Regions from separate parts of the Homo sapiens genome. Here all the other regions are linked to region 3. The links come from fine-mapping of genetic effects on gene expression. A gene starts in region 3. Each other region holds a variant in brackets. All regions are shown on one strand. Distances are between the middles of the regions. Region 1 holds the start of MIR5697 (microRNA 5697). Region 2 has its middle 9.3 kb from the start of CTNNBIP1. Region 3 holds the start of RBP7 (retinol binding protein 7).

Evidence for each region. PIP is the estimated chance that this variant, and not a neighbour inherited with it, causes the effect.
Region 1: its variant is the best candidate, but not a certain one, in a credible set for the expression of RBP7 in subcutaneous fat (TwinsUK, PIP 0.50).
Region 2: its variant is the best candidate, but not a certain one, in a credible set for the expression of RBP7 in breast (GTEx, PIP 0.68).

Annotation. Positions count from the first base shown.
Region 1 is chr1:9,960,595-9,970,492 of GRCh38, forward strand. The region is part of intron 1 of NMNAT1 (nicotinamide nucleotide adenylyltransferase 1); the gene reads left to right. It overlaps MIR5697 (microRNA 5697), which reads left to right and starts at 6,787; the gene lies at 6,787-6,864. It also overlaps the pseudogene TMEM274P. The variant T/TA (reference allele first, on the strand shown) is at 7,076.
Region 2 is chr1:9,914,592-9,924,489 of GRCh38, forward strand. It overlaps a transcript of LZIC not described here. Among named protein-coding and RNA genes, the nearest start is that of CTNNBIP1, 9.3 kb to the left of the region's middle. The variant G/A (reference allele first, on the strand shown) is at 4,347.
Region 3 is chr1:9,992,648-10,002,545 of GRCh38, forward strand. RBP7 (retinol binding protein 7) reads left to right here and starts at 4,581. Exons shown (of 4, transcript NM_052960.3): 1 at 4,581-4,684. The coding sequence starts at 4,612. LOC124903840 (basic salivary proline-rich protein 2-like) reads right to left here and starts at 5,442. Exons shown (of 2, transcript XM_047436754.1): 1 at 5,035-5,442; 2 at 4,072-4,205. The coding sequence starts at 5,383. The coding sequence ends at 4,072. It also overlaps a transcript of NMNAT1 not described here. RefSeq lists a silencer at 6,330-6,530.

The DNA of each region.
Region 1 (9,898 bases), 32 kb before region 3:
CCACTGTACCCAGCCCAAGATTAGTAATTTTAAAATTAAAAGTAAATTTTAAGCCTCAAGACTGCCAGAGAAAGAAATGAACTCCTTATTGTCACAGTGAGCTGAGGAGGGACACTTACAGCCTGAGCTGGTGAGTTCTCAGCAGCCAGCAGTGCAAGCGATAGGCCGTGTGGGCCAAACAAAAGTGAATCATGGTGACACTGGGCCCAGAGCACCTGGAGCAAGACAAGGAGGACCCAGGTCAGTCCCGTTAGAGTTTCCAAACTGCTGCACCCATTCATCAATCGGCCACAGCCCCCCTATACGCATGCGCATGTGCCCTGCAATGATATGGAGGAAGTACTCTTCAGGAAAGGGACAGACCCTAGTTCTTTAAAACCCACTTTTGGCAGCAATAGGAGCTCACTGTAACCTTAACTCTTGTGTGGCTCTGAAGGTTTAGAGTCTGGTGTGAGCTCGAGTTGGCTTTGTTAACAGTTAGTGGAACTGTGAGCTGGATATTTGAGACAAGTTATAGATGTAACAAGGGAGAAAGACAGCTTCCTTTATGCTGAGAGATCAGCTTCCTCCAGCCCTTCCACATCCCTTGGGCATCACCTGGAAACCTAAGCTTATCCCCAAGTGTAGGGCTAAAAGCTGTTTGTTCCATCCTTCCCTGAAGTCTGCTTCAGAACTGCAGCAGCTCCCTTGAGGACCCACACCTCTCGAACTCAGCCTTACCCTTCTTCCATCTCTCTCTTGGGAATAGTAACTGAAACCTGAGATGGGCGGGGTTGTCTGACGCCAGCTGTCTGTCTGGTGCCAGCTGAACCCAGCCCCTCCACCAGTCTTTGAGAGCATGCTCAGTGGCTGGTGGATACCCTGATTTCTCTGTAGGCCTCAGGGTACTATGGGCATGTCGCATTCATCACCCCCTCCCATAATACCACTGGTAGTTTTTATGGGTATCGAGGGCCTGGGGTAGGGATAAAGGGTATGGGTACAAGCCCCAAGTGAATCATGGTATGATACTTTTGATGGTAACTGAAAGGTAAGACATTTAAATCATTCTTAGTGATGAACTCATTTTTTTCTAATGCCCTAGTGACTACTACTGAACCTTCTCCGTTATTCCCTAAGAACAGTTAGCAGTGTCCCTGTGATCCCACCACTGTGCCTTCTTTCGAGAAGGCCCCAAGTATATATATATTTTTTGAGACGGAGTTTTGCTCTTGTTGCCCAGGTTGGAGTGCAATGGCATGATCTCGGCTCGCCGCAACCTCCACCTCCCAGGTTCAAGTAGTTCTGCCTCAGCCTCCCAAGTAGCTGGGATTATGGGCATGTGCCACCATACCTGGCTAATTTTGTATTTTTAGTAGAGACGGGGTTTCTCCATGTTGGTCAGGCTAGTCTCGAACTCCCAACCACAGGTGATCCACCTGCCTCGCCCTCCCAAAATGCTGGGATTACAGGCATGACCTACCGCGCCCGGACCCCAAGTATCTTTCTTACTTCCATTTCCACTGACTATTTGTGGCTGCTTTTCCTATCTTGTTTCATCCCGTCCAATGAATTCCAAATCATCACTGTCATCAGTAACATCACTTTCCTCAAAAATAACAGCTGCCGCCGGGCGCGGTGGCTCACGCCTATAATCCCAGCACTTTTGGAGGCTGAGGCAGGCGGATCACGAGGTCAGGAGATTGAGACCATCCTGGCTAACATGGTGAAACCCCGTCTCTACTAAAAATACAAAAAATTAGCCCGGCGTAGTGGTGGGCGCCTGCAGTCCCAGCTACTTGGGAGGCTGAGGCAGGAGAATGGCGTGAACCCGGGAGGCGGAGCTTGCAGTGAGCCGAGATCGCGCCACTGCACTCCAGCCTGGGCGACAGAGCGAGACTCCGTCTGAAAAAAAAAAAAAAATAACAGCTACCATTCATTTTAACACTGTGCCAGGCAATATGCTAAGCCCCTTGCCATGTTTATCCTCAGAATTAATCCTCAAAGTAACTGAGATTGGCCTTCTCATTATCTCCATTTTACAGATAAAGAACCTAAAAACAGAGTTAAGAGATCAAATCAAGATCACACAACCAAATAAGGGTTTTTTTTTTTTTTTTTTTTTTGAGACGGAGTCTTGCTCTGTAGCCCAGGCTGGAGTGCAGTGGCGCGATCTCGGCTCACTGCAAGCTCCGCCTCCCGGGTTCACGCCATTCTCCCGCCTCAGCCTCCCGAGTAGCTGGGACTACAGGTGCCTGCCAACACACCCGGCTAATTTTTTGTATTTTTAGTAGAGACAGGGTTTCACCGTTTTAGCCAGGATGGTCTCGATCTCCTGACCTCGTGATCCGCCCGTCTCGGCCTCCCAAAGTGCTGGGATTACAGGTGTGAGCCACCGTGCCTGGCCCCAAATAAGGGTTTTTAACACCCATGTCATATTATTTTGAGAACCCTGTTGTCACTCCTTTGCTCAGAAACCTTCAAAGGTTCCCATTGTCCAAGGGGTTAAAGTTTATATTTCTCAACTCCTTAGCTATGAGAGGGCTCAATTCCAATCTACACTGTTCCAGTTTATCTCCCATTTTTCTTCTTGGTGAGAGAGCTTAAGAGTCAGGAAACCTAAATTCTAGTCCTGATGTGCCATTCACTAGCTTTGTCCACTGACAGCATAAAATCTGAACAAAAGCAAGTTGGTCAGCCTAGCAGTTATGTCTGACTACTATTGGGCTACAAATGAACAGTCTTGACACAGGTGTTTTCAGTATTGCCAAGTCTTAGATGTACACAGTGAGGCATTGCATAGCCTTAATTTCCAGATTTATTTTTAACCCACTATTTCTTTTTTTTTTTTTCCAAGATGGCGTCTTGCTGTGTCCCCCAGTCTGGAGTGCAGTGGCACAATCTAGGCTCACTGCAACCTCCATCTCCCGGGTTCAAACAATTATCCTGCCTCAGCCTCCCGAGTACCTGGGATTACAGGCGCACACCACCACGCCCAGCGAATTTTTGTATTTTTTAGTAGAGACGGTTTCACCATGTTGGCCAGGCTGGTCTCGAACTTCTGACCTCGTGATCCGCCCACCTCAGCCTCCCAAAGTGCTGGGATTACAGGCGTGAGCCACCGCATCTGGCCCCCATTATTTCTTTTTTGAGATGTTTGTAATAGTGAAAAATTAGAAAAACCTAAATATCCAAAGGTCGAAGATTAACTGGAAAAACTGAATTAACTATAGATTATCATTTGGAACATGCTAATTGCTTTTGGCCAAGTTATTTTTTTGCAGTGAGAATCAAATGACAATGTGTATGAATTTTATTTTATTTTATTTTATTTTTGAGACAGAGTCTCACCCTATCACTCAGGCTGGAGTGCTGAGGCGTGATCTCAGCTCACTGCAACCTCTGCCTCCTGGGTTCAAGTAATTCTTGTGCCTCAGCCTCCCAAGTAGCTGGGATTACAGGCACCAGCCACCACACCTGGCTAATTTTTATACTTTTGGTAGGGATGGGATTTCACCATGTTGGCCAGGCTGGTCTCAAACTCCTGGCCTCAAGTGACCCACCTACCTCGGCCTCCCAAAGTGCAGGGATTACAGGTGTGAGCTACCACACCGGGCCGAAAGTATTTTTATAAAGCCAGGTGTGGTGGTTCACACCTGTAATCCCAGCACTTTGAGAAGTGTAGGTGGGAGGATCACTTGAGCCCTTGGTCTTGAAATCCTGGGCTCAAGCAATCCTCCCACCTCCACTTCCCAAAGTGGGAAGCAGAGCCTGGGCAACAAAATGAGACTCCTTCTCTACAAAAAAATAGAAAGATAAGCTGGGTGTGGTGATGTGTGCCTGCAGTCCCAGCTACACGAGTAGCTGAGGCAGGAGGATCCTTGAGCCCAGGAGATCGTGGCTGCAGTGAGCCATGTTCAAGCTAAACCTCCCAGCTTTCCCAGCCTGGGTGACAGAACAAGACCCCGTCTCAAAAAGAAAAAATAAAAGTATTCTATACTTTTGTTTTTGTAAACCAAAAGTAGCATATAACTATTGATGTGTTTATTGTCATTTGCTATATTTCTATGTTAATTATAAAAATGCTTCAAGCGGCCAGGCACGGTGGCTCATGCCTCTAATTCCAGCATTTTGGGAAGCCGAGGCAGGCGGATCATGAGGTCAGGAGATCAAGACCATCCTGGGCTAACACGGTGAAACCCCATCTCTACTAAAAATACAAAAAATTGGCCAGCATGGTGACGCACACCTGTAGTCCCAGCTACTCGGGAGGCTGAGGCAGGAGAATCACTTGAGCCAGGGAGGTAGAGGTTGCAGTGAGCCAAGATTGTGCCACTGCACTCCAACCTGGGCGACAAAAAAAAAAAAAAAAAAAAGCTTCAAGCTCTACAAAAAATTCCCCAAAGTTTTGAAAATACTTTGAGCAAGATTATGTCACTGGAATTATATTTATAAGATCTCAGGGCCAGGTGTGTTGGCTCATGCCTGTAATTCCAGCACTTTGGGAGGCCGAGGCGGGTGGATCACCAGGTCAAGAGATCAAGACCATCCTGGCGAACATGGTGAAACCCTGTCTCTACTAAAAATACAAAAATTAGCTGGGTGTGGTGGCGTGGGCCTGTAGTCCCAGATGCTCAGGAGGCTGAGGCAGGAGAATCGCTTGAACCCAGGAGGCGGAGGTTGCAGTGAGCTGAGATTGTGCCACTGCACTCCAGCTTGGCAACAGAGCGAGACTCCATCTCAAAAAAAAAAAAAAAAAAAGATCTCAGAATGATTATTTTTAAGACATTCTTTGGATATATAAGAATATTTATTACTTTTTAATTTTTATATTATTGTTGTTATTTTGAGACAGAGTCTCGCTCTGTCACCCAGGCTGGAGTGCAGTGGTGCAGTCTCGGCTCACTGCAACCCCTGCCTGCCAGGTTCAAGTGATTCTCCTGCCTCAGCCTCCCAAGTACCTGGGATTACATGTGTGCGCCACCACACTCGCTAATTTTTGTATTTTTGGTAGAGATGGGGTTTCACCATGTTGGTCAAGCTGGTCTTGAACTCCTGACCTCAAGCGATCTCTCTGCTTTGACCTCCCAAAGTGCTGGGATTACAGGTGTGAGCAACCGCACCTGGCCAAGAATATTTATTTTGAAGTCCAAGCACAGTAGCTCATGCCTGTAATCCCTTTGAGAGGCTGAGGCAGGAGGCCAGGAATCTGAGACCCACCTTGACAACATAGTGAGACCCTGTCTCTGCAAAAGATTTAAAAAATATAGCCAGGTGTGGTGGCATGTGCTTGTGGTCCCAGCTACTTGGAGGCTGAGGCAGGAAGATCATTTGAGCCTAGGAGGCAGAGGCTGCAGTGACCTGTGATCATGCCATTGGACTCCAGCCTGGGCAACACACCGAGATCCTTTCTCAAAAAAAAAAATTTTATTCAGAAGTATTTGGCTGGGCACGGTGGCTCACGCCTGTAATCTCAACACTTCGGGAGGCTGAAGCAGTCAGATCACTTGAGGTTAGGAGTTTGAGACCAGCCTGGCCAACATGGTGAAACCCCGTCTCTACCAAAAATACGAAAATTAGCCAGGCATGGTGGGGCATGCCTGTAGTCCCAGCTACTTGGGAGGCTGAGGCAGGAGAATCACTGTAACCTGGGAGGCAGAGGCTGCAGTGAGCTGAGATCGTGCCACTGCACTCCACCGTGGGCAACAGAGGGAGACTCCATCTCAAAACAGAAAGAAATTATTTATAAATATTATTGACCGGGCGCGGTGGCTCACGCCTGTAATCCCAACGCTGTGGGAGGCTGAGGCAGGCAGATCACCTGAGGTCAGGAGTTCAAGACCAGCCTAGCCAACATGGTGAAACCCCATCTCTACTAAAAATACAAAAATTAGCTGGGCATGGTGGCAGGCACCTGTATTCTTAGCTACTCAGGAGGCTGAGGCAGGAGAATCGCTTGAACCCAGGAGATGGAAATTGCAGTGAGCCAAGATTTTGCCACTGCACTCCAGCCTGAGCAGCAGAGTGAGACTTAGTCTCAAAAAAAAAAGTATGTATATATAATTATATACAAATATTTATTTGAAAACCTTTACAATAGCAAAGTTATTTTTTTAACTTGTTGAAAACTAGTAGGCAGCATTTAAAAGGTTCTGTACAATGAATGAAAAAGATACTGTCATCACTGGGCATTCCAGAGTACTAGGGATAAGATAATATACTACACATCTTCTAGAAAGTAAAAGCAGGTTACACATAAAGGAACAAGGATTAGAATGACCTCAGACTTTCAACAGCAATGTTGAATGCCAGCAAACAATGAAGAAGTGCCTTTATAATCTTAAAAGAATAATTTCAAAAATTATTTGGGCTGGGCACAGTGGCTCGAGCCTGTAATCCCAACACTTTAAAAGGCCGTGGCGGGCAGATCACCTGAGGTCAGGAGTTCAAGACCAACCTGGCCAAAGTGGTGAAACCCTGTGTCTACTAAAAATACAAAAATTAGCTGGGCATGTTGGCAGGCATCTATAATCCCAGCTACTCAGGAGGGTGAGGCAGGAGAATTGCTTAAACCTGGGAGGCAGAGGTTGCAGTGAGCCAAGATCTTTCCACTGCACTCCAGCCTGGGTGACAGAGTGAAACTAAGTCCCCCCGGCTCCCCGCAAAAAAAAAATTATTTGAAATTATTGAGTTGAAAAGAATTTTCTCAAGCCATTAATAATTGAAGGAAGAATAACAACATCGTCGAACTTACTTGATCTCCCATGCGCCTATCAAACTTACTTGATCTCCCACGAATCCTACTGGAGCATATTCTCAAGTAGTTTCATGATAAAGGGTGTATGAGAGATCAACCCTTTATCATGAAACGCTTGAGGATACGCTCCAGAAAGATTAGAAAGCAAAGCGAGAAATAAATAGGGGATCTAACCCAGGAAAGAGATGAAGAAGTTTTCAGAATAATAGCTTCACAAATAGAGATTTTTCATCTGGATAAGAGGAGGAGAGTTCCAGAAAGAAAATCCTCTGGGAAAAAAACAGATTGAATAGAATAGCAATTGTAAATTAAACCATTTGAAATTGATGTTTTGTTGAT[T/TA]AAAAAAAAAATTGCTTGCTGAGCACAGTGGCTCATACCTGTAAGCCCAGCACTTTGGAATTGGCCAAAGTGGACAGGTTCGCTTCGAGATTCTGAGCCCAGGAGTTTGAGACCAGCCTGGGCAATATGGCAAAACCCCATCTCTACAAAAAATACAAAAAAACAATTAGCCAGTGCATGCCTGTAGTCCCAGCTGCTTGGGAGGCTGAGGTCGAAGGATCACTTGAGCCTGGGAGATGGAGGTTGCAGTGAGCTGAGATTGTACCACTGTACTCCAGCCTGGACAACAGAGTGAGATACTGTCTCAAAAATCAAAAAACAAAAGACAATTCTAGTAACATAATTTGCAACATTCATAATAGCTATATTCATAGCATGTTTGCTATTTGCCAAATGTAGTTTTTTTTTTTGTTTTTTTTTGAGATGGAGTCTCGCTCTGTTGCCCAGGCTGGAGTGCAGTGGCACGATCTTGGCTTGCTGCAAGCTCCGCCTCCTGGGTTCACGCCGTTCTCCTGCCTCAGCCTCCCGAGTAGCTGGGACTACAGGTGCCCGCCACCACGCCTGGCTAATTTTTTTGTGTTTTTAGTAGAGATGGGGTTTCACCATGTTAGCCAGGGTGGTCTCGATCTCCTGACCTCGTGATCTGCCCATCTTGGCCTCCCAAAGTGCTGGGATTACAGGCGTGAGCCGCCGCGCCTGGCCTGCCAAATGTAGTTCTATGTCTTGGATCTGTATTGTTTCATTTAATCCTCACAACAATCAGGAGGTAGGTAGTATTATTTTCTCCTTTTTAAGATTGATTAAAAACTGGGACAAGGTGGGCACTGTGGCTCATGCCTGTAATGCCAATACTCTGGGAGGCCGAGGCAGGTGGATCACTTAAGGTCAGGAGATCAAGACCATCCTGGCTAACATGGTGAAACCCCGTCTGTACTAAAAATACAAAAAATAATTAGCCAGGAGTGGTGGCGGGCACCTATAGTCCCAGCTACTCGGGAGGCTGAGGCAGGAGAATGGCATGAACCCAGTAGGCGGAGCTTGCAGTGAGTCGAGATCATGCCACTGCACTCCAGCCTGGGCGACAGGGCGAGACTCTGTCTCAAAAAAAAAAAAAAAAAAATTAGCCAGGTGTGGTGGCACGTGCCTGTAATCCCAGCTACTTGGGAGGCTGAAGCAGGGAGGATTGCTTGAACCTGGAAGGCAGAGGTTGCAGTGAGCTGAGATCGTACCACTGCACCCCAGCCTGGGTGACAGAGCGAGACTCTGTCTCAAAAAAAAAAAAAAAAAGCCAAAGAAAAAACCTGGCACAAAAGGAAGGTTAAGTTAGGGTTAGGTTGCCCAAGGTCATGCCGTTGGAGCTGCAATTTGAAGCCAGGCAGCCTAATATCAGAGCATAGGCTCTTAACTCTTCTGTTATATAGGCGGGAAATTGTAGGATACTTTCTTGTAGAGTCTGACTAATCCAAGCAAAAAGACCTGCGGTACTGACAGGTTACTGAACAGTTATGGCCCCTGTGCACAAGCCCTACCTACCCACTCAGCCTGTCCCATCAGCTCTTTTTGAAGAAACTTTAAAATATATCATGAATATTGGTAGAGAAATAGAGATGATAATCTGTTGGGGAAATGAGTAGAATACCATAAACAGGAGTATTCAGAGGATAGGGCTCTTGGAAATTAAGAGTGTAATGGCAGAAGTGAAAACTAGGCAGATTGGAGGATGAAGTTGAGGCTATCAGGAAATTAGAGCATGAAGGCAGGAGGTGGAAAATACAGAAAAAATGATTAGATGCTTCAGCTCTAAATAATAGACATTTTCAGGCCAGGCACAGTGGTTCATGGGCGGCTGAGGTGGGTGGATCACTTGAGGCCAGGAGTTCGAGACCAGCCTAGCTAACATGGTGAAACCCATCTCTACTAAAAATTCAAAAGTTATCTGGGTGTGGTGGTGCATGCCTGTAGTCCCAGCTACTTGGGAGGCTGAGGCAGGAGAATTGCTTGAACCTGGGAGGTGGAGGTTGCAGTGAGCTGAGATCGTGCCACTGCACTCCAGCCTGGGTGAGAGAGGGAGACTCTGTCTCAAAAAAATAAATAAATAATAGACATTTCAAAAGAACAGATAAAATGGGAGGCAGAAAATCATCAATGAAAGAACTCAAGGACATTTTCTAGAACTGAATGTTACAAGTTTCCAGACTGAAAGGACCTGCTTGCCCTGTGCTCAGCATGATGGATAGAAACAAAGCTGCACTAGAGGACAGCACTGTGAAATTTCAGAACACTGCGGACAAAGAGAAGACCTTACATGCTTCAAGACAGGAAAAAAATGACATTCAAAAGCTCCGGAATTAGAAGTGGCTTTGGATTTCATGCTATTAACATTGGAATCTAGAAGTAATGCCTTTGAAGTTGTGAGAGAAGATGATTTTCAACATAGTCTGGAGATAAACTATATTGGGCAGTTTGGGAGAAGGTAGTCAAAGGGTATGAGGGCTAATCTTTATAGATCATAAAGTCAATGGGCACTGTTATAGTTGGATAAATTAAGAAATGGCATTATAAGCACATAATGTAGAGTTATGGTAGAAACTACCAGAAGAAATAGCTGAAAAAGTTAAAAGTGGTTGGATGGAAGGGATGATGAGTGGAATATGATTGATGGCTGTTGGTTTTCATTAAGGGCCTTTTTTACCCTGTGATGTTCTAGATCTATATATATGAATTAGTTGAATAAGAAATTTTAGGCCAGGCGCAGTGGCTCACGCCTGTAATCCCAGCACTTTGGGAAGCTGAGGCAGGCGGATCACAAGGTCAGGAGATGAA
Region 2 (9,898 bases), 78 kb before region 3:
GTGTCACCCTCTTGTGTTGTGCCTTGGCAAATACTTGTCATCTAATTTTACTTTGGAGATGATAAGGAATTATTAAACACAATGATGAAAGCATTTTGTAGATCGGTGAATATACATATTTTGTGTCATGAGTGGGGTATGTGCAGCTGTGAACATCTGGCTCTCTGCCAGCATGCCCCCCAAGTGTTAGTCTCTGTAGCATCTGATGAGTAGATCTTCCCGACATCACAGAACCCAGCTTTTATGTGTTTGGGAACAGTATAAAGAAATAATTATTCATTTCTTTGGCTGAGTGTTTTGATCAACCAACATGTCTTCTAAGTGTATTTTGTCTGTGAAGCCTGAAACATTCTAATCACCTAGTAAAGACAAAGCAACATAAGACCTTAATTTGGATCCATATACTCAGCTGATTAGCCTTTAACCATAGCAGTCTGTTTATCACCTTTTTTTCCTGCTGGTTATTGTCTAATTAAGGACCCAAAAAAATGACCATCCCTAAAAGCAAATAGCCTGTACCCTCTGGGAAAAATTAAATAACTGTCTTCCCCCACTCTCCCTGGCATATAAATGGCATTTCATAGCTGTAGATGTTGCAATGATATCAGTGTATTCAGATGAGACTGAAAAGACCACTCCTGACAAGCAATTCTTTCCTCATCTTATTGAATATAGATTGCCCGGTAGTTTGTTGTTGTAAACAAGCAGTAGAGTCTGTTATTATTAAACATCTATAACTTTGCTCCTGACCTTCACCATTGTAAGACAGTAGCAATTTTTTTTTTTTTTTTTTGAGAAGGAGTCTTGCTCTGTCGACCAGGCTGGAGTGCAGTGGCACAATATTGCCTCACTGTAACCTCAGCCTCCTGGGTTCAAGCAATTCTTCTGCTTCAGCCTTTTCAGTAGCTGGGACTACAGGCGTGTGCCACCACACCTGGCTCATTTTTTGTATTTTAGTAGAGACGGGGTTTCGCCATGTTGGCCAGGCTGGTCTCGAACTCCTGAGCTCAGGCAATCCACCCGCCTCAGCCTCCCAAAGTGCTGGGATTACAGGCGTGAGCCACAGCTCCTGGCCAACAGTAGCAATTTTTAAACTTATCCCAGGCCAGGCACTGTGGCTCACACCTGTAATCCCAACACTTTGGGAGGCTGAGGCGGGTGGATTGCCTGAGCTCAGGAGTTCGAGATCAGCCTGGCTAACATGGCGAAACCCCATCCCTACCAAAAATTCAGAAATTAGCCAGGTGTGGTGGCGTGCACCTGTAATCCCAGCTACTCGGGAGGCTGAGGCAGGAGAATCAATTGAACATGGGAAGCAGTGGTTGCAGTGAGCCGAGATCACGCCACTGCACTCCAGCCTGGGCAATAGACTGAGACTCCATCTCAAAAATAAAAATAAAAATAATAAAAAATATTTTTGAGACTCCATCTCAAAAAAAATAATAATAAAAAATAAATAAACTGGCCAGGCGCCGTGGCTCATGCCTGTAATCCCAGCACTTTGGGAGGCCAAGGCAGGTGGATCACGAGGTCAGGAGTTCGAGACCAGCCTGGCCGACATGGTGAAATGCCGTTTCTAAAAATACAAAAATTAGCTGGGCGTGGTGGTGCACGTCTGTAATCCCAGCTACTTGGGAGGCTGAGGCAGGAGAATCGCTTGAATCCAGGAGGCAGAGGTTGCGGTCAGTCGAGATTGCGCCATTGCACTCCAGCCTGGGCAACAAGAGCAAGACTCCCTCTCTAAATAAATAAATAAATAAATAAACTGACCCTAGACTATAAACTCTCCTGTTTATATATCTCGTTCATATGTTCATCTAGTTTTTTTTTTTTTTTTTCTGAAATCCTTTGCTATTTGTAACACTGAGGTCTAGCTTGCTGCAGTGTGACAGACACTTAGATTTTGCCTCCAGTCCAGCAGAGACTGCTAAATCTAAATGAACTTTGTGGCTCATTTCCACCCCACTTTCATTACTGTTCTTTTGGGAAATTACTTCCCATCAGCAGTATTTGCCCCAGCTGGTGAATCAGAGGGGGCTCTTTTTTATAGATAATAAACAGTAAAGACTGAGGGCAGCAGATCCATCCCCTGGTGTTAGCTAATGAAGAGCCTCACATGAAAGCTTATGCAGCGGGGACAGGCATAGCGTTAATATCCTGGGATCCAAGATTACACACTCTTCTCTCACATGCTGCTGAATAGATAGTAATGATTATTAATTATTTAAGCAAAGAACATGAGAGCCAACACAGGCAGCAAAAAGAAAGAGAGAGAGAGAGAGAGAGAGAGGGAGGGAGGGAGGAAGGGAGGGAAGAAAAGAAAGCTGCACTCTAGGATCTTCTATTGAAATCATTTTAATTAGTACAAGCTATGGAGCCAAGGGAAATAGACCAAGATACTTAATAGCGAAAGAATTTTTAAAAACTCTCTACCACTTTTCTTTCTGTAAAAAAAAAAAAAAAAAAAAAAAACAAGAGCTGAGGTTATATATTTGTATACACTGCTGTCAAAACGGAGTTTGAGAATGGAATTGCTTCCACAGGCTCCCTTCTGTGATAGCATATCAAAGAAAAAGGGTGAAACCTTCAGGAGGTTTTCATTCCAAATCTCAAATTTCCTGTCATTCCTGGTAGTTTTACTTTTTCTCTGTAGATTTCATGGTACCTGGTTTCTTCCTATTCAATAAGCTGTGACACACTATTTTATTTTTATTTTTTATTTTTATTTATTTTTTTGAGATGGAGTCTTGCTCTCTCACCCAGGCTGGAGTGCAATGGCACAATCTCAGCTCACTGCAACCTCTGCCTCCCAGGTCAAGTGATTCTCCTGCCTCAGCCTCCTGAGTAGCTGGGATTACAGGCGGCCGCCACCACACCTGGCTAATTTTTGTATTTTTCATAGAGACAGGGTTTCACCATATTGGCCAGGCTGGTCTTGAGCTCCTGACCTCAAGTGTCTGCCCGCCTCAGCCTCCCAAAGTGCTGGGATTTATAGGTGTGAGCCACCATGCCCGGCCAACACACTATTTTAAAAGTTACAACCCCAAAAAGGCATAAGGTTTTGTTTTGTTTTGTTGAGACAGGGTCTCGTTCTGTCCCCCAAGCTGGAGTGCAGTGGCATGATCAGGGCTCACTGCAGCCTCTACCTCCTGGCTTCAAGTGATCCTCCCACCTCAGCCTCCCAAAGTGCTGGGATTACAGGCATGAACCACCACACCTAGCCAAAAGGCATAGTTTTGATCTAACTTTCAAATTCTAGGACTATGGTCCCTTGTTTGGAACTCATTGGTCATTCTATCACAGTCCAACTTTTCCACATTGTCAACCTCCCTGCAGCTAATGACAGTTCCTCTTATTATCGTAGTTTTAATTTTGAATTCAGTAATATTTGGACATCTAACTCTCATTATTACTATCACTAACCTGGCTCTGTGACTAACAAAAGACTGTTTCCTTTGTGGGCATCTTTCTGACCTTGTTCCAATATTCACACTACCTTACACTAAACTCTTAATATTCCTTTCAGTTGCACTGATTCATACCTTCTCCTGACTCTTGATCAAGCATAGCCAGTCTCTTCAGTCAATCACTCATTCAAGGAATATTTATTGAGTTCTTTCCAGGTGCATGGCAGTGTACTAGGCAGGGGATAAAGCAGCAAATCAGACATATATTGTCCTTGCCCTCATAGTGAGTAAGAGACATCAATGAATTACATGATTGAATAATTCATTGCAACTGTAATTAAATGCTAAAAGCTGACATACAAGGGGCTGTGGGACCATATAACTGGGAATCTAACCTTGTATTAACAGGCAAGGAGAGCTTCCTTGGGAAAGTAATATTTAAGCTTACACTCCAAGTATAAGTTGGAGTTAACTAATCAAAGGGTGAGGAGAAGAGCAAAGCCAACAGTAGGACCAGCCCATAAAAAAAAGGTCATGAGGAGGCAAGAGAACATGATGAGATCAAACAACTGAGAGAAGGCTGGGGGCTGGAGTGCAGTGACGGAGAGAGAGGCCAGACCCAAATCATACAGGCCTTTATAGGTCATGCTAAGCATTTGGTTTTTATTCCAAGAGTAATGAGAATGATTGCAGGGTTTAAACAAGAATGTGACATCATCAGAATTGTATTTAAATAGCTGACTATGGCTATAGCATGGAAAATGGGCTAAAATGGAACAAGAGGAGTATATTAGTCAGCTATTGCTGCAATAATGCTGTATAACAAACCACCTCAAAATATAGTGGTTTTTTCGTGTTGTTTTTTTTTTGTTTTTTTGTTTTTTTTGCTCAGGAGTCCTCAAATTGCCTGGCTTCAGGCTGTGAGTTGCCTATGACTCT[G/A]CTGAGTCGGGATGGGATCAGCAAGGTTTAGCTGCAGACTAGGATTAAATCTGCCTCAAATTTCCTCCTCCTCCTTGGATTAGAGGCTAGCCAGGGTATATTCCTCTTATGATGAATGGTAGAAGAACAAGAGCAATGGCCAGGCACGGTGGCTCATGCCTGTAATCCCAGCACTTTGGGAGGCAGAGGCGGGCGGATCACGAGGTCAGGAGATTGAGACCATCCTGGCTAACACAATGAAACCCCGTCTCTACTAAAAATACAAAAAATTAGCTGGGCGCGGTGGCGGGCGCCTGTACTCCCAGCTACTCGGGAGGCTGAGGCAGGAGAATGGCGTGAACCCGGGAGGCGGAGTTTGCAGTGAGCCGAGATCGCGCCACTGCACTCCAGCCTGGGCGACACAGCGAGACTCCGTCTCAAAAACAAACAAACAAACAAACAAACAAACAGAACAAGAGCAGCAAGCCCAACTGTGGAAGCACATTGGAAGGTCATTGGCCATATCATCTAACAGCCTAGCCCCAAACAGTAGAGCAAGGAAGTATGTTCTACTCCAACAGAGAGAGGTATGAATAAAAGTTTTCTGATTCATACCCCAATATATCAAAGCAGCTATGAGTGAGGCATTTTCCTTTTTTTGTTTTGGAGACAGAGTTCCTCTGTTGCCCAGGCTAGAGTGGCACAATCCCGGCTCACTGCAGCCTCCGCCTCCCAAGTCCAAAGTGATTCTCCTGCCTCAGCCTCCTGAGTAGCTGCGATTACAGGCACCTACTACCATGTCTGGCTAATTCTTTTTTTTTTTTTTTTTTTTTTTTGAGATAGAGTCTCACCCTGTCTTCCATGTTGGAGTGCATGGCACAATCTTGGCTCACTGCAACCTCCGCCTCCCAGGTTCAAGTGATTCTCCTGCCTCAGCCTCCCGAGTAGCTGGGATTACAGGCACGTGCCACCATGCCCGGCTAATTTTTGTATACATATATATTTTTCTTTTTTTTTTTTTTGAGACAAAGTCTCGCTCTGTCGCCAGACTAGAGTGCAGTGGCGCGATCTTGGCTCATTGCAACCTCTGCCTCCGGGGTTCAAGCGCTTCTCCTGCCTCAGCCTCCTGAGTAGCTGGGACTACAGCCACACGCCACCATGCCCAGCTAATTTTTGTATTTTTAGTAGAGACGGGGGTTTCACCATGTTGGCCAGGCTGGTCTTGAACTCCTGACCTCAGGTGATCTGCTCACCTCGGCCTCCAAAAGTGCTGGGATTACAGGCGTAAGCCACCATGCCTGGCCTTTTTTTGTTTTGTTTTTTTGAGACAAGGTCTTGCTATGTTGCCCAGGCTGGTCTGGAACTCCTGGACTCAAGTGATCCTTCTGCCTCATCCTTTCAAGTAGCTGGGATTACAGGGCAAAACCACTGTGCTGGCCTTGGCATTTTCCATTCTGATGGAAACCAAGTAAATGGTAGAGTCTACTGCTTTATTCATCCTAAGCCACTTTGCTTTAGCCCCTAAAAAACCTGCTTTAATTTTCTCGAGGCCTTTAACATATATGGTATAAAATTGGTATATTATCAGCTTTGAGCATTTAAGGAACAGTTTAGTATCCATGAGCCCAATTTTCTCATTGAGTCTCTGGATGCAGTATGCATATGATTTCTCGGTGACCAGAAGCACTTGCTATAACAATAAATGTCACAAGGAGTTTCAGAAACAAATTGTTCCCTTTCTTGCAGTCACTTCTGTGTAAACACAAGATGAAGTTCTTTCTATCAGGGTTGGCTCTACCTGCCCCAAAATGCTCACTCTTCTCTTTTTTTTTTTTTGAAACCAGGTCTCACTCTGTCACCCAGGCTGGAGCACAGTGGCATGACCTCAGCGGACTGCAACCTCAGCCTCCCATGCTCAAGTGATCCTCCCACCTCAGCTTTGTGAGTAGCTGGGATTACAGGCACGCAACCTCCTATAGTCATAGGCGCGTGCCACCACACCCAGCTAATTTCTGTATTTTTTTTGTAGAGATGGGGACTTGCCATGTTGCCCAGGCTGGTCTCAAACTCCCGAGCTCAAGTGATCCAGCCCCCTAGACTTCCCAAAGTGTTGGGATTACAGGCATGAGCCACCGCGCCCAGCCAAGAATGCACTCTCTTCAGCCAATTACTCTGAGGCTACCGATTCTACAGTGGGTTCCAAATGAAAGAAGAGAAAGTCATAGCAGGTACTCAAGTTTATGATGGATGGGTCTGGCATAATGCTTTGTACTCTCATTAATGTTGGGTTTTTGTTTGTTTTTTAGATGGCGTCTCGCTCTGTTGCCCAGGCTGGAGTGCAATGGTGTGATCTTGGCTCACTGCAACCTCCGCCTCCCCAGTTCAACCAATTCTCCTGCCTCAGTTTCCTGAGTAGCTGGGACTACAGGCATGTGCCACCATGCCCAGATAATTTTTGTATTTTTAGTAGAGACGGGGTTTCTTTTTTGGGGTGGGGGGACAGAGTCTTGCTCTGTTGCCAGGCTGGAGTGCAGTGGTGCAATCTCGGCTCACTGCAACCTCCGCCTCCCAGGTTCAAGCGATTCTCCTGCCTCAGCCTCCCAAGTAGCTGGGACTACAGGTGCACACAACCACGCCCAGCTAATTTTTCTATTTTTAGTAGAGTTGGGGTTTCACCATGTTGGCCAGGATGGTCTCGATCTCCTGACCTCGTGATCCACTCGCCTCGGCCTCCCAAAGTGCTGGGATTACAGGCATGAGCCACTGCGCCCGGCTGAGACAGGGTTTCACCTCGTTAGCCAGGATGGTCTCGATCTGTTGACTTCGTGGTCTGCCCACCTCAGCCTCCCAAAGTGCTGGGATTACAGGTGTGACCCACCGTGCCCGGCCTTTTTTTTGTTTTTAATTTGAGACGGTGTCTCGATCTGTTGCCCAGACTGGAGTGCAATGGTGTGATCTCGGCTCACTGCAACCTCTGCATCCCAGGTTGAAGCGATTCTCCTGCCTCAGCTCCCCAAGTAGCTGGGAATACAGGCATGTGCCACTATGTCCAGCTAATTTTTGTATTTTTAGTAGAGACGGGGTTTCACCATGTTGGCCAGGCTGGTCTCAAACTCCTGACCTCAGGTGATCCACCTGCCCCAGACTCCGAAAGTGCTGGGATTACAGGCATTAAGCCACCACACCCGGCCTATACTCTCATTAATTTTTAGATGTAATTTATTATTTGAAGAGAAAAGAAAATCTCTGCATTTCCCAAAAGCGCTTACATCATATTCTTGTGCTGGGCTTTAACTTGGGTTCATCCTTTGCTTCCATTCTTGCAGTTACGCATGTATTCACAGGTCCTGGATCTTTAACAGGAAGCTAATCTTGCTGGGGACATCAATATTTTTGCTGGGGTGTGAGTCTAGCAGGTAGTTCATGTAACTTGGGGGCCGTCCTGGGGAGCGAAAGTGAACTATTTTTAGCTGACTTCAAGTGGAGGCAATTCACTTAAAGAATTCAAAGGCTTTGGCAATATCCTAGATTGACTTTAATGAGTAGCCTGAAATAGCTACAGGCTCCAGGGGGTAGACCGAACCTATTGAGGGCCTCTCCTAGGAGATAAAAAGGCGCTTACATAGCTTGCCTCATAAAGTAGTGTCAGCTTCTTCCCTGCCCCTAGCACAGTGCTCAGCATGGGAGCATTTCTGCTCATCTTATTAATTGGTGGCTAACTATAGACAGAACAGAAAGAGGCACTTATTTCACTAATATGCAGAAGCACGTTCTTAGGAAAGAGAGGAAGGCAGGCTCACAGAGGAGGATGCAGGCAGGCCTCAAACAAGCATCCAGGTGACACTTAGGACATTTTAAAACAGCTTTGAGTAGGCAATTCCCATTTAATTTCTTTTCAGAGTAGGAAACATATAGAAGCAGCATGCTAAAGGGGCTGCAGGGTCTGAAAAGGATAAAGGAACTAGTTTTAATTTGCCTTCCATTTCTGCTGCTAATGACACCCTACTGAGACAGACTATACTATAACACATACATTCCCACCAACTCAATCACATTCTTTCATTAGGATGTCTTGGGCTATTATAAGATCTTTTTAGCACAACTTTTAAGAGAAGGAAATATAACAGAAAAAGTAATTTACCTCACCTCCAGGAAAGGAAAAGACAGGAGTAACAGAATTGTAGGCTTTTTCCCACAGTAGGGACTCCCAGTTAATTTTATGATCTTCATTTCCCATTATTTCAAATAGCAAGACCATGAATACACAGGCTTCCCTTGGTCAACCCAAATACAATGCCTCCATTTTATTTATTTTATTGTTTTTGAGATGGAGTCTTGCCCTGTCACTGAGGTATGATCTTGGCTCACTGCAACCTCCGTCTCCCAGGATCAAGTGATTCTCCCTGCCTCAGCCTCCTGAGTAGCTGGGATTACAGGCACCTGCCACCACGCCCAGCTAATTTTTGTGGTTTCAGTAGAGACAGGGTTTCGCCATGTTGGCCAGGCTGATCTCGAACTCCTGACCTTAGGTGATCAGCCTGCGTCAGCCTCCCAAAGTGCTGGGATCACAGGCATGAGCCACCGCACCTGGCCCAATGCTTCTTTTTTTTTTTTTTTTTTTTTTTTTTTAAGAGATGGGGTCTCACTATAATGCCTAGGCTGGACTAGAACTCTAGGGCTCAAGCAGTCCTTCTGCCTCAGCCTCCCAAGTATAGTATAGAATTTTTGAAATGCATATTTTAAGATTTATGCTTTTCTGCTAGCATTGGGTCAAGAAAAAAAGAGAAAAAAATATTTTAAATATTTTGTGAAGTAGCATTATATTGCTTTTATTTATATTTATATATATTTTTTGAGACAGAGTCTTGCTCTGTCACCCAGGCTGGAGTGTAATGGCACAATCTTGGCTCACTGCGACCTCTGCCTCCCAGGTTCAAGCGATTCTCCCGCCTCAGCCTCCCGAGTAGCCGGGATTACAGGCATGAGCCACCACGCCCGGCTAATTTTTGTATTTTTGTAGAGATGGGGTTTCACCATGTTGGCCAGGCTGGTCTCAAACTGCTGACTTCAGGTGATCCACCCACCTCAGCCTCCCAAAGTGCTGGGATTACAGGTGCCTGCCACCATGCCCAGCTAATTTTTTGTATTTTTAGTAGACCCGGGGTTCCCCCATCTTGGCCAGGCTGGTCTCGAACTCCTGATCTCGTGATCCACCCGCCTCGGCCTCCCAAAGTGCTGGGATTACAGGCATGAGCCACTGTGCCCAGCCAATAGTTGTTTTTCATTGTTGGGTCAACTTAAAACACAACTTTCTCACTGTAAAACAAACCTCTACAGGGATGCCGCTATATATCTAAATGTATTAACAATAAAACACTTAATTGTCTTATTTGGGGAAAAAAAAGGCTCTATCCAATATCCATATTATTTTATTTTATTTATTTATTTATTTTTTTGAGACGGAGTCTTGCTCTGTCACCCAGGCTGGAGTGCAGTGGCGCGATCTCAGCTCACTGCAACCTCCGCCTCCCGGGTTCAAGCGATTCTCCTGCCTCAGCCTCCCAAATAGCTGG
Region 3 (9,898 bases):
ACGCCTGTAATCCCAGCACTTTGGGAGGCCGAGGTGGGTGGATCACAAGGTCAGGAGATCGAGACCTTCCTGGCTAACACAGTGAAACCCCATCTCTACTAAAAAATACAAAAAATTAGCTGGGTGTGGTGGCGGGTGCCTGTAGTCCCAGCTACTCAGGAGGCTGAGGCAGGAGAATGGTGTGAACCCAGGAGGCGGAGCTTGCAGTGAGTGGAGATCGCACCAATGCACTCCAGCCTGGGCAACAAAGCGAGACTTGGTCTCAAAAAAGAAGAAAAAGAAAAGAAAAGACTGTACCCCTAATAGTGACTTTTGAGCTGGAAGCCAAAGGAGCTAACCAGGCAAAAACTAGGAGGAAAAACATCTCAGAAAGAGGAGACACCAAATACCAAGACTCTGAAGGAAAGGGTGTGATGTGATTAGAGGAACTGAGTTGGGGGAGACAGGATGTACTGCTGGTGGAGGAGTAGCCAGGAGCCAAACCAGGAAGGACTTTGTGAACCTAACCATGAGAGAGAGTGCAAATTTCCTTTTAAGAAAAACAGGACAGGCCAGGAGCGGTGGCTCGCACCTGTAATTCCAGCACTTCAGGAGGCCTAGGTGGGTGGATCACCTGAGGTCAGGAGTTCGAGATCAGCCTGACCGATACGGTGAAACCTCATCACTACTAAAAATATAAAAATTGGCCGGGTGTAGTGGCATGCGCTTGTAGTCCCAGCTACTCGGGAGGCTGAGACAGAATTGCTTGAATTCAGGAGGTGGAGGTTGCAGTGAGCCAAGACTGTGCCACTGCACTCCAGCCTGGGCAACAGAACAACACCCCATCTCAAAAAAAAAAAGAAAAGAAAAAAGAAAGACAGGACAATACTGAAGGGCTGTAAGCAAGGAGTGAGAAGATCTGAATTACATTCCTTAAAAGCTTGCCGGGGCTGCGTATGGAGAATTGTTTTGAGGGACTCAGAAGGGAAGCAGCAGGTCCAGATGAAAGATTTTTATAAGTGGTCCTGGCAAGAGATGATGGGGACTTGGGTTAAGATGGTAGAACCAAGAGGACTTGCTGAGGGACTGGATTTTGGCCAGCAGAGAAGATGGAAATTCACAAATCTACTGGATTCTTAGCTTGAGCATCCAGGGGCCTAATGGAATGTATGGAGATAAGGAGAGCTGGAAAAAATTTTGTTCTTACACTTTCTAGCTTAGCTGCGTCAAGTTTCAGATGCCTTTAAGATAGCCAAGTGGAGACGTCAAGTAGGAGGCGAGAGGTGGCACTGAACGTGCAGGCAGGTTACCTGGGTTTGAATCCAGACTCTGCCAACTATATGACCTCGGGCAAGTTAGTTAACCTCTCTATGCCTCAGTTTTTAGCTCTGTCAAAGGGAGTTAATAAAATAACTATTGGAGAAGTAGGATTTTGCAACAAATAATAATACACATAGCACTCAACAAATGTTAGCTTTTTTTTTTTTTTTTTTTTTTTTTTTTTGCAACAGAATCACTCCGTCTCCCAGGCTGGAGTGCAATGGTACAATCTCTGCTCACTGCAACCTCTGCCTCCCGGGTTCAAGTGATTCTCCTGCCTCAGCCTCTCCAGGAGCTGAGACTACAGACGTGTGCCACCACACCTGACTAACTTTTGTATTTTTTTAGTAGAGACGGGGTTTCACCATGTTAGCCAGGCTTGTCTCAAACTCCTGACCTCAGGCAATCCACCCATCTCAGCCTCCCAAAGTGCTGGGATTACGAACGTGAGCCACTGTCCCCAGCCAAATGTTAGCTTTTATTTTTTATTTTATTATTTTTGAGACAGAGTTTGGCTCGTGTTGCCCAGGCTGGAGTGCAATGGCACGGTCTTGGCTCACTGCAACCTCTGCCTCCTGGGTTCAAGCGATTCTCCTGCCTCAGCCTCCCACGTAGCTGGGATTACAGGTGCCCGCCACCATGCCTGGCTAATTTTTTGTATTTTTTGTATTTTTTTTTTTTTTTGAGACGGAGTCTTGCTCTGTCCCCCAGGCTGGAGTGCAATGGCGCGATCTCGGCTCACTGCAAGCTCCGCCTCCTGGGTTCACGCATTCTCCTGCCTCAGCCTCCCGAGTAGCTGGGACTACAGGTGCCCGCCACCACGCCCGGCTAATTTTTTTGTATTTTTAGTAGAGACAGGGTTTCACCATGTTAGCCAGGAAGGTCTTGATCTCCTGACCTCGTGATCTGCCCGCCTCAGCCTCCCAAAGTGCTGGGATTACAGGCTTGAGCCACTGCGCCTGTCCAATTTTTTGTATTTTTAGTAGAGATGGGGTTTCACCATGTTGACCAGGCTGGTCTCAAACTCCTGACCTCAGGTGATCCACCCACCTCGGTCTCCCAAAGTGCTGGGATTACAGGTGTGAGCTACCATGCACGGACTGCTAGCTTTTATTATATTTGAGTCTGGAACTCATGGGAGAGGTCATAAATTGACATATAAATCTTGAGCTGGACACAGTGGCTTACACCTGTAATCCCAGCACTTTGGGAGGCCAAGGTTGGAGGGTTGCTTGAGCCTAGGAGTTTGAGACCAACCGCCGGCAACACAGGGATACTCCATCTCTATAAAAAATTAAAAAAATTAGTCAGGCATGGTGGCACATGCCTGTAGTTGTAGCTACTTAGAAGGCTGAGGCAGGAAGATCACTTGAACTCAGGAGGTTGAGGCTACAGTGAACCATGATCATACCACTGCACTCCAGCCTAGGCAACAGAGCAAGACTCTATCTCAAAAAATAGTCAGTCTGGGTGTGGTGGCTCATGCCTGTAATTCCAGCACTTTGGGAAGCTTAGGTGGGTGGATCTTTTAAGGTTGGGAGTTCGAGACCTACCTGGCCAACATGGTGAAACTCCACCTCTTCTAAAATATATAAAAATTAGCCAGGCATGGTGGCAGGTACCTGTAATCCCAGCTACTCAGGAGGCTGAGGCAGGAGAGTTGCTTGAACCCAAGAGGCGGAGGTTGCAGTGAGCCAAGATTGCACCATTGCACTCCAGCCTAGGCGACAGAGTGAGAGTCTGTCTCAAAAAATAAAATAGAATAAAATAAAATAAAAAGAATAAATGAAAAAATAAATACCGCGGGTGCGGTGGCTCACACCTATAATCCCAGCACTTTGGGAGGCTGAGGCAGGCGAATCACGAGGTCAGGAGCTCAAGACCAGCCTAGCCAACATGATGAAACCCCCATCTCCACTAAAAATACAAAAAATTAGTTGGGCATGGTGATGGGCACCTGTGATCCCAGCTACTCGGGAGGCTGAGGCAGGAGAATCACTTGAACCTGGGAGGCGGAGGTTGCAGTGAGCCGAGATGGAACCACTGCCCTCCAGCCCGGGGCGATAGAGTGAGACTCCCTCTCTGCCGGGCGCAGTGGCTCAGGCCTGTAATCCCAGCACTTTGGGAGGCCAAGGCGGGCGGATCACAAGGTCATGAGATCGAGACCATCCTGGCTAACACGGTGAAACCCCGTCTCTAATAAAAATATAAAAAGTTAGCCGGGCGTGTTGGCGGGCGCCTGTAGTCCCAGCTACTCGGGAGGCTGAGGCAGGAGAATGGCGTGAACCCCGGAGGCGGAGCTTGCAGTGAGCCGAGATCTCTCCACTGCACTCCAGCCTGGGCACAGAGCGAGACTCCGTCTCAAAAAAAAAAAAAAAAAGAAAAAAGAAAGAGTGAGACTCTGTCTCAAAAGAAAAAAAATAAAAATAAAATCAATAAGTCAGTCTTGGAGCCAGCATATCTAGGCGGTGTTTGTGGCTAATGTTGTAGGTTAGCCCATATTCCCACCCCTTCTCCTTTGCTTTTCTCTGCTCTGAGGCTAAATGCTGCAGACTAGAATCCCCAGGCCCCCTTGCAGTTAGAAGTGGCATTGATACAGTTTTGGCTAATGAAATGTACACAGAAACCTGCTGGGTAATTTCTTTTCTTTTTTCCAACTATCCAGACTTATAGGAGATGGGGAGGTTTGTGCTGCAGGGATACTGACCTTTGGTGCTTTCCCTCTTCCCTACCTTGAATGTGGATGTCCTGGCTGGGAACCCAGCTGCCAGCTCATGACCAGGAGGTAACAAGCAGGAATAAAAGGCCACCAGAGTCACAGAGACGAAGCTGCGGCGTTACCGAGGTGCGAATCACTGTGATTCCTAGGTGCGAATCATCACCAGCAATCACTTCTCTCAGGACTCCTTGTTAAGAAAAATAAACTCCTATTTATTGAGACCATGAGAGTTACGTTGAGAGGTATATTGTTATTGAAGCTGACAATATTCAATGCCATGAGTTTGAAGATCATCCCTGGGTCATTAACATATAAGCAGGGAAGAAAATGTGGCCCGAAACAGTCTGGGACATGAGAAAGCAGTAGGAGAGGAAGCCCCAAGGAAAGGGGGAAGCTGCCGCGCGGTGGGCAGAGCCAGGAGCACCGGGCTGAGGCGGCCGGGAGCGCAGCGGCTTCTAGGGGTGAGTGGGACCCACGCGGCCCCACCTGCTCCTCCCGCGCGCGGCCCCACCCCCCTGCCCCGCCCCGCCTGGTTTATAGGTCCCGGCCCGAGCCTCCGGCCGCCCGCCGGGTTTGTCCCGCGATCCCCGACCATGCCCGCCGACCTCAGCGGTACTTGGACCCTGCTCAGCAGCGACAACTTCGAGGGCTACATGCTGGCCCTAGGTAAGGCGGAGGGGAGGCGGCGGCGGCGCGAGGCTCGCCGTGGGTCTCGGGATCAGGCGAAGGCGGCCGGGCCGGGCCTGTAGGTACGTCCTCTGTCCGTGCCTCCGCCCTGCTGCGCCCACCGTCGCCCAGTCGCCCCCGAGTCCGCTGGTCCTTGGCGCCTCCGTCCATCGGGCGCGGGACCCCAGTCCTTCAGTCCCCCAGTCCGTCCTTTCCCGCGCCCACCCGCCCCCCTGTCCCCACGGCCGTCTCTCCACGCCCTCTGTTCCCCCGGCCGTCGGTCCCCCACCCGTCCGTCCCTGAGTGCCCGCGTCCAGCCCCACGTCCGTCTCTACCCGCACGCGGCACACCTGCGGAGACTGCAGACTCGGGGTCCGGCCGGGGAGGGGGGTCCGGCCGGGGAGGGGGCGCCCGGGACCGAAGCCTCTGCCCGGCCACCCTCCCCGCAGCCGCCTTCCGTGCAGGCCCCGGGGCCCCGGGCGCGCTCCCGCAGCGAAGTCCCAGCAGCCTCGGCGCACCCGGAGCGGGTCGGGGATGCAGAATCCTGGAGCCAGCGGACGACCCTTCAGGTCCGGGCACCCGCGGGAGTGCAGAGCCTGGTTCGGCCCGGGGCGTGCCCCGACCGCCGCCTCCCACGAGGGCTGGGTGCCCGCGGCGTTCTTGCTCCCGGGGGCCCCGCGCTGTGCTTCCCGCCCTCATCGCGGTGCCAACGGTGCGCGGACTCTCAACTCACTGCAACCTCCGCCTCCTCGGTTCAAGCGATTCTCCTGCCACAGCCTTCCAAGTAGCTGGGATTACACGCGTGCGCCAGCCACCACGTCCGGCTAATTTTGTACTTTTAGTAGAGAAGGGGTTTCACTATATTGGTCAGGCTGGTGTCCAACTCCTGACCTCAGGTGATCCACCCGCCTTGGCCTCCCAAAGTGCTGGGATTACAGGTGTGAGCCACGCGCCCTGCCACGAGTGTAGTTTTTCTTGTAGCTTTAGGAATCTGGGAAGTTGCCGTGCCGGCCAATCCCTGAACCCTTGACCCGTGGGCAATTTTTGTTTTCTTTTTTTCTTTCTTTCTTTCTTTCTTTTTTTTTTTTTTTTTTGAGACGGAGTCTCGCTCTGTTGCCCAGGCTGGAGTGCAGTAGTACGATCTCGGCTCACTGCAAGCTCCGCCTACCGGGTTCACGCCATTTTCCTGCCTCAGCCTCTCCGAGTAGCTGGGACTATAGGCGCCCGCCACCACGCCCAGCTAATTTTTGTATTTTTTAGTAGAAACGGGGTTTCACCATGTTGGCCAGGCTGGTCTCGAACATCTGCCCTCGTGATCTGCCCACCTTGGCCTCCCAAAGTGCTGGGATTACAGGCGTGAGGCACCGCACCGGCCAATTTTTGTTTTCTTAACCTTAGGGCCCATCTTAGTTGATAAAGGGGCATTTATTTTGCTCTTTCATATCCCAAGAGATAAGAGTGTTCCTCTGGGTATGGGAAAAGCACCTCTCACTTGAGAGTCTTATGATCTTCTTCAGAGGAAGAGCAGAGAATTCTTTTATGGCCTGCTTCAGGGAAGAGGGGCAAAAGAAGGTCTGAGGGGGACCTTCCTGCTACTGTTATTTCCTCAAATGCCAAGTGATATGGTTTGGCTGTGTCCCCACCCAAATCTCATGGGAGTTGTAGTTCCCATAATTCTCATGTGTTGTGGGAGGGACCTGAGGAGAGGTAATTGAATCATGGGGTAGTTTTCCCCACACTGTTCTGGTGGTAGTGAATGTCTCATGAGATTTGATGGTTTTACAAGGGGTTTCCCCTTTCATTTGGCTCTCATTCTCTCTTGCCTGCCACCATGTAAGACGTGCCTTTTGCCTTCTGCCATGATTTTGAGGCTTCCCCAGCCACGTGGAACTGCGGCAGTTAAACCTCTTTTTCTTTATAAGTTACCCACTCTTGCCAGGCTCGGTGGCTCACGCCTGTAATCCCAGCACTTTGGGAGGCTGAGGCGGGTGGATCAACTGAGGTCAGGAGTTCAAGACCAGCCTGGCCAACATGGTGAAACCCCGTCTCAACTAAAAATACCAAAAAGAAATTAGCTGGGCATGGTGGCGGGCGCCTGTAATCCCAGCTACTTTGGGAGGCTGAGGCAGGAGAATCACTTGAACCTAGGAGGCAGAGGTTGCAGTGAGCTGAGATGGTGCCATTGCACTCCAGCCTGGGCAACAAGAGTGAAACTCTGTCTAAAATAATAATAATAATAAGTTACCCACTCTTGGATATGTCTTTATCAGCAGCGTGAAAATGGACATAAGGTGCCATGTTCTGAGGTCGCCTATCCAGAAACCCTTAAATCCAGAACGGTTTTCTGAAAACCAGCAACTGTGTTTCAACTTCAGATCTAATTTGTTAAAGTACTAAGTACTTACATCAATTTGTTAAAGTGCTAAGTACTTAGGTCACACTTATAGCACTAGAGTGGTTGTTTACATAATACTGTAATACTCTTTTTTTTTTTTTTTTTTTTTTAGATGGAGTCTGGCTCTATTGCCTAGGCTGGAGTGCAGTGGCGCGATCTCGGTGTGAGCCACTGTGCCCAGCCATAATACTATAATACATTTTATCTTAAGAATTAAGTTGGTCTGGGTGCAGTGGCTCACACCTGTAATCCCAGCACTTTGGGATGCTGAGGCAGGTGGATCATGAGGTCAGGAGTTCAAGACCAGCCTGGCCAACATGGTGAAGCCCCACCTCTACTAAAAATACAAAAAATTAGCTGGGCATGATGGCATGCACCTGTAATCCCGCTACTTGTGAGGCTGAAGCAGGAGAATTGCTTGAACCCAGAAGGTGGAGGTTGCAGTGAGCCGAGATTGCGCCATTGCACTCTAGCCAGGGAGACAAAGCAAGACTCCATCTTGAAAAAAAATAATTAAGCTAGCAGACTGGGCAGGTGGCTCACGCCTATAATCCCAGCACTTTGGGAGGCCGAGGTGGGTGGATCACCTGAAGTCAGGAGTTTGAGACCAGCCTGGCCAACATGGTGAAATACCCCATCTCTACTAAAAGTACAAAAATTAGCTAGGCATGGTGGCTCATGCCTGTAGTCCCAGCTAATTGGGAGGCTGAGGCACGAGAATCGCTTGAACCTGAGAGGTGGAGGTTGCAGTGAGCCCAGATCACGACACTGCACTCTAGCCTGGGCAACAGCATGAGACTTGGTCTCAAAAAAAATAAGTCAATAAGACAAAAAAAAAAATTCAGCTAGCAATCTTGAATTTTACTGATTTACTTGAATATATAATTAACTTTAAATTTATATGCTTGTTCATGTACATGTAAGGAAAATACATTCCATAAAAAATCACAGATATAGTACTTAGATCTTTAAACTGTAGGGTCTAGGAAAATAATAAATGATCGCCTCTTTTTTTGTTGTTGTTGTTGAGATGGAGTCTCTCTCTGTTGCCCAGGCTAGAGTGCAGTGGTGCGATCTCGGCTCACTGCAACCTCTGCCTCCTGAGTTCAAGCAATTCTCCTGCTTCAGCCTCCTGAGTAGCTGGTATTACAGGTGCCCACCACCTCTCCTGGCTAATTTTTGTATTTTTAATAGAGACGGAGTTTTACCATCTTGGCCAGGCTGGTCTTGAACTCCTGACCTCGTGATCCACCCGCCTTGGCCTCCCAAAGTGCTGGGATTACAGGCGTGAGCTACCGTGCCTGGCTGATTGCCTCTTTTTTAGTAGTAGAAGTGAGGTAAATGCCTGTTGGCAGTGATGCTAAGGGTCAAATAAGTCACCAGCAAATACACAGCACACATCTCATGATGTGCTCCAGCTGGCATCTCATTTGAGGGCAGAAAATCACTCCCTTTTGTCTAAAAACTAGTGTTCAGGAACTGATCCTGCAGCTCCCACCCGGGCTCTGGCATCACTCTCTCCCAGCATTTGCCAAACCGCAGTGAGAAGAAAGGCAGCTTGTCTTTGCACAAAGAAGCAAGTTTACTTGGGTTTTTTGAGATAGGGTCTTGCTCTGTCGCTCAGGCTGTAGTGCAGTGGTGCGATCATGGCTCACTGCAGCCTTCACTTCCTGGGCTCAGGCGATCCTCCCACCTCAGCCTTCCAAGTAGCTGGGACAACAGGTGCATACCACCACACTTGGCCAATTTTTCAATTTTTTTGTAGAGACGGTGTCTTGCTGTGTTGTCCAGGCTGGTCTCAAACTCCTGGCCACATGCAATCCTCCTGCCTCTGCCTTGCTTGGGTTTTAATATTTGGAGCTAACCTGGGATTTGGGAGTTCCTGGTGTACCCCCACAGCAGCCAAGGACACTGAAGGTGCGTGCTTCAGAAATGGAGAAGCCCCATGTTAATGCCCACAGATATTGACTAACTTGTGCAAGTCCTCGCCTTTAGTCCTGTTATGAACCCAAGAAGGTGGTGGTGTTACTAACTTGTCCCAGATTACTGTGTACACTGGGATATATTTATTTAATTTAATTAGTTTATTTATTTATTTATTTATTTATTTATTTATTTTTGAGACAGAGTCTCCCTTTGTTGCCCAGTCTGGAGTGCAGTGGCACGGATCTTGGCTCACTGCAACTCCGTCTCCCGGGTTCAAGCAATTCTCCTGCCTCAGCCTCCCAAGTAGCTGGGATTACAGGCACACGCCCCCACACCCCGTTAATTTTATATTTTTAGTACAGACAGGGTTTCACCACGTTGGCCAGGCTGGTCTCGAACTCCTGAGCTCAGGTGACCTGCCTGCCTCGGCCTCCTAAAGTGCTGGGATTACAGGCATGAGCCACCACATCTGGCCCTACACTGGGATTTAAAGGGATCCCTTCTTGCCTTCAACCCACATTGCCTTGAGATTAGAAGTGGCTTTGAGATTGAAGGTTAATATAAACATCTGAAGCTTAGATAAATGTACGTTTGTGTGGACTCCTTTGAGATCCTACCTTCAGGTGTATATGCTCACACATTTGTAATAGCACGTGCATCAGGCTGTTCCCTCCTACTCGAATGTCTTATTTTCTATTTAACATAATCTAGTAGATGAAAAAGCATGGCTTGACCTGGGTAACAGCCTTATGAGGAATATGGCCTTTTGGACTGTTGGACTGTTGAGGTTCTAGTAAGTGTGGACCTGGCAGAAAGTGACCAGAACTTATGCTAATTTATTCATTTTATTTTATTTTTATTTTTTGAGATAGGATCTCACTCTGTTGCCCAGG